Linked DNA regions of Homo sapiens: region 1 is linked to region 2. The links come from fine-mapping of genetic effects on gene expression. A gene starts in region 2. The other region holds a variant in brackets. All regions are shown on one strand. Distances are between the middles of the regions.

What was found. PIP is the estimated chance that this variant, and not a neighbour inherited with it, causes the effect. A credible set is the group of variants that fine-mapping cannot tell apart.
Region 1: its variant is the best candidate, but not a certain one, in a credible set for the expression of FAS in whole blood (INTERVAL, PIP 0.78).

Annotation. Positions count from the first base shown.
Region 1 is chr10:88,910,843-88,913,342 of GRCh38, reverse strand. It overlaps STAMBPL1 (STAM binding protein like 1), which reads right to left. Exons shown (of 11, transcript NM_020799.4): 5 at 2,332-2,427; 6 at 1-242. Among named protein-coding and RNA genes, the nearest start is that of ACTA2-AS1, 21 kb to the left of the region's middle. The variant A/G (reference allele first, on the strand shown) is at 1,236.
Region 2 is chr10:88,989,756-88,992,255 of GRCh38, reverse strand. FAS (Fas cell surface death receptor) reads right to left here and starts at 1,458. Exons shown (of 9, transcript NM_000043.6): 1 at 1,350-1,458. The coding sequence starts at 1,379. It overlaps FAS-AS1 (FAS antisense RNA 1), which reads left to right. Exons shown (of 1, transcript NR_028371.1): 1 at 1-834. It also overlaps a transcript of ACTA2 not described here. RefSeq lists enhancers at 523-602, 733-1,142, 1,283-1,793, 1,794-2,305.

The DNA.
Region 1 (2,500 bases), 79 kb after region 2:
GAATTGTTCTGGTGTGTGGAAAAGCAGGACAAAGCGCTCCCATCAATCTGCTCTGACAGCCCTGAGGTTTGCTGACTTCGCATTTGACCTCGGGCTAACTCTTGCTTCTTGAGTTGATCTTCGAAAAACAGAAACTGCTCCGATTCTAGCTGCTGCTGGCGCATCTGAGCAATCCGCTTCCTTTCTGCCTCTATCAATCTCTGATGCTCCAATTTTTTGAGAATTTCAGCTTTATATTTGTTCTAAAAAGTGTGGCAGCCAGAAGAGAAGGTTAGTTTCCAAGGAGAAACATTGAACTGGAATTAGACATTTTCAGTCTTCAAGCAGACAGAGAAAATGCTAGATACTGTGATATGCCCACAGGGACACTCATGGAACAGTGAGAGAAATACATAACATCAGGGCAAAAGCCCCTTGATCTGATTAACATAGCAGTTCTAAATCCACTGATATTTTACCAGAGACAGGCCATGACAATCAGGATCCCTTCATTCCCTAATGCTTTTAAATACTGGAAAATCAACGTCAAGGTTGTTTGCTCAGTCAGACCAACAAGACCATATGAAACAAAATATCTCACCCCTACTGCACTTCTAATATAGTGGCCACTAGCCACATGTGGTTATTTGAACTTGATTAAAATTAAACAAAATTAGAAATTCAGTACCTCAGGGACACTAGTCAGTCACATTTAAGTACCCAGAAGCCACATGTGGCTAGTGGATACCATATTGGAAAGTGCCAAACAGAACACTTCCATCATCACAGGAGTTCTATTGAACAGTGCTGCCCTAGAACCTTTCGCATTTGACTCTAGAACTCATACTCTGCTGGAAATTTATGGATAAGAAGGAATCACTAAAAAATGGTTATTAAAATGTGTTCCAACCTTCTCTGTCACCACTAACCCAGAGTTTTGCTAAAAAGGAGGAGTCCCAAGCTCTCCAGTTCTAACAAAATATCCAGGCTTATTAGGTCAGATAATATGAAATATTAATGAGCCTTTCAGGTGATTTTGATAGAAACTAGATTTGGGAGCTACTGTAAGATGGCGGTAGCATGGGGGACACAGCTTATAGTGGCACATTCAGGTGCATACAAATCATCCTGGGGCTAATTGCAGTTGCAAATCCTGATTCAGCAGGTCTGGGGTGGGGCCTGAGATTCTGCGTGTCTAACAAGCTTCCAAATGATGCTAATGCTGGTGAAGCAAGGGCTCACAGGCATTGCTGTTT[A/G]TCTCTCCTAGGCTCAGTCCTGCTATTCTAAACCCACAGAGATTCCCACATGGGTCACCACTGTAGGCTATGAAGTGACTGGTATCAAAGGCAAAACATGCAACAGCTGCAGAGCCTGTTCCTCCCAGGAAGATCATGAAGAGGAAGATCATACACATTGCTGACCGTGGAAAGGAGACTTGAACTGGGCTTTCGTCTCCCTTGCTGTTGTTGCTTTGTCTTACCCTCCAAGAAAATTTCTATCTTTCATATTTCAAGTCACATTATTAATATACACACTTGAGGGACATTTCCAATTTCACCATTCCCTCTACCACTTCGTTAAAACTCTCCACTCAAGCCAGCCTTCCACCTATGCCCATAGAAAGTCAAAAAGCTCAATGAGCATTCTCAGAGATGATGAGATTGAACTGAAGTGAGAGTCAGTGAAGGTGGTAACCCCTAAAGCAAATAAAACACAAACAAAAAAGCAAAATAACATCTATAATGATGCTATGTTGAACGTGAGTATCCCATACATTCACTGGCCAATTTCTTCTTCCAATGCCTTTCTGCCTCTCAGACATTATCATAATGTTCACTCTTTATTAATAACAATCCAGAAGCCACCACTTTTGGGTGATATGATTACATTTCAACCACAAGGTTAGCTGTTATTCTATCTCAATGCAATACTGACTGTAACATTCTAAGAATCAAATTCACATTTCTAAGGCCTACATCATTAGGCACATCAGAAACCATATACTGCTCTCCCTACCTCCTACTGGCTGTTCATCTGGCAAAAGAGCAGCCATCTGGCTCAAGGTTATCTGGCTCAAGAGTTAATCAAAAAGTTCTACTTAAATCGCTGCAGGAAATCTGTTTTCTAACACATTGCTTTGTTAGATATTGTAGGGAAATAGAAATACCACATTGTTGGTGAAACTGCTTAACCTGGATATCAGCATAAATTTTTTATTGGTTCCATATCACTGCATCTTTAATTTTTAATTTAAATGCACAAAACATTTGAAAAACTCATCACATAAAAATGAAATTCAAAAAATACTTGTACATAAAATAGTCATGAAATAAATGTACCAACTGAACTTACTTTGCTTTGCAAATATTCTTGGTATTCTACGTTATATTTCTTTAAAAGGTCGTTTTTCAATTCATCTGTCCTTGGGAATGCAATCTCCTTCAGTTTCTTTTAAAAATATATATACATATTGATTAGTGGGATTTTCAATACACTCTTTCAGATCATCAGGTGAGAAAGA
Region 2 (2,500 bases):
ATAGTGCACACTATTTCTGAAAGGAACAGGATTTTTTTTTCTAATCATAAAATGGACCCAGACATCTCAGCCTCTTGGTGTAATCTGGATATCAGATGCAATCAGCGAACAGCCTGAGTTTTGGAATTAGATCTGAGTTCAATCCCATATCTCCCATTTACTAGCTGTGTGATCTTGGCTGAATTACTGAAGCTCTCTGAACCTCATTTCGCCATCTGTAAAATGGGGATGTGGTTATCTTCCCCACTACATGGCTCTCGTGAGAATCCGCGGAGATCACATTTGTAAACACTTCTCTCGCTATGCCTGGCACTTTGTTGGGGCCCAATAAAATAAAAATCCATGGACTCTCAGAGGCTCCGGTACTCAAATGAGCCTCCTGGATCCACGTCTCTTTGATTAGCCATCTGCAAGCTGGCATTTCTGAGCGAGGGACTTTTCAAAACAGGCTGCTCAAGTTTCTTGGCCAATAATAGGCGCCGGGTTCTGTGCGGTGGGAACGAGTACCACCAACCCCAGCAGGAGACCAAGCAGAAATCACCATGGGAGTGCAAGCTAAGAAAGGGCAAAAGAAGAAAGAGAAGGGCAGAAAAACAAAACAAAATGAAACCACTCAGGCAGCGACTTACAGTCTTAAAGAGAGAATTCCCGGAAGGGAGACAAGGCAGTTTCTTTTTCTGTGTGACAATAAAAAACGGTAAACAAGCCTCCAGAAGCTCATTCAGCCCCCATATAACTTTTTCGAGAAAGAAAAGGTGCCGTTCTTCCGAGCCCTCCGGCTTAACCACTGCTTCGGTGCTGACTTATTTCCTACGTCTGAGAACTGCCAGAAAATGAGCAATATCTGTTCTGAAGGCTGCAGGCTCTCTCCCCGCCCCCGCGGGGCGGCGCGCACTCACCCACCCGCGCCGGAGCGGACCTTTGGCTTGGCTTGTCAGGGCTTGTCCAGGAGTTCCGCTCCTCTCTCCAACCGGGGTCCCCCTCCAGCGACCCTAAAGCTTCCCAGACTTCCGCTTCAATTCCTGTCCGCACCCCACGCCCACCTCAACGTGGAGCGCAGTGGTCTCCGAGGAGCGCCGGAGCTGCCCCGCCTGCCCAGCGGGGTCAGCACTTCGCATCAAGGCCCAAGAAAAGCAAGTCCTCCAGCGTTCTGAGCACCCGGGCCTGAGGGAAGGTCCTAACAGCCCCCGGGAGCCAGTCTCCAACGCCTCCCGCAGCAGCCCGCCGCTCCCAGGTGCCCGCGTGCGCCGCTGCCGCCGCAATCCCGCACGCGTCCCGCGCCCGCCCCACTTTGCCTATCCCCGGGACTAAGACGGGGTAAGCCTCCACCCGGGCAGGAGAGGGCTCACCAGAGGTAGGAGGGTCCAGATGCCCAGCATGGTTGTTGAGCAATCCTCCGAAGTGAAAGAGCTTCCCCAACTCCGTACTGAGCGGGTCCACCAACCCGCGGGAGAAGAGGCAGCTCCGCCTGGGCAGCCAGGGCTGGCCTCAGGGTGTGTTCCGTGCCAGTGCCCGCCCCTGAGGCTCCAGCCAAGTCACTCGTAAACCGCTTCCCTCACTCCCCAGAAGCGTCTTTGAACACCTGTGTGTCACTCTTGCGCGAGATCAGAGACGAGCTCACGAAAAGCCCCGGTGGTCAGGAGGATGGGAAGGAAGCCTCGCTGGGGAACGCCCGGGTTGGGGAGGGCTCCATTGATTCAGCAACTTGGCCTGCGCGCGGGTAGGGAGGGGGAGAAGTCAGGGTGAGGAAGGAGTCAGGGTTCGTTGCACAAATGGGCATTCCTGTCCCGGGGCGTTCCTGCAGTGGCTGGCATGCTCACTTCAGGTGAGGACCTCGAGAGCCGGCCTCCTGCCCTTTCTAAAGGCTTCTGCTGTAGTTCAACCTGGGAAGTTGGGGAGGTCTTGAAGGAGAATGGAGCTCAGAGCGCAGAGGTCCTGCCTGGGTACAGGAGCCTTGGCTAATTGCTGGAGTCACTCAGAGAAAGACTTGCGGGGCATTTGACTGGGCTGTCCATGTTGTGGCTGCAACATGAGAGGCTCACAGACGTTTCTGGAATGGACAGTTAACCATATGAAAAAGTACAGATGTTGCGCCATAGGGCTCTGAAAAGGGAGGGCCCCTTAGTTTTTATTTCTCAAGAGGAAAACAAAGCTAACAACTTAAGCCAAATCGCATAGCCCCAGCTATATTAAACATTCACAATTACTTCCTGTCCTTCGTTACTCATTATTTCCTGGCCAATTTTCTTTAAAAAAAAATCTTGTAATTCTTTCGTGCTCTGGTGAACACTGTTCAAAGTCACTATTGCTTTGGAACGGTAGATAGCTCTTAGGTAGTTTAGCATGAATTTTACAGAAGGTATGTTTGGATAATGACATCATTACTGAACCTGAATTTGGATGCAGTTCCAGACTGGACACACTAAAGGTTTCAGTATTCCTTTGGCATCGTCCACCAAGCTCTGCACCTCACTCTGCAACCTCTCTCCCTTCCCAATTA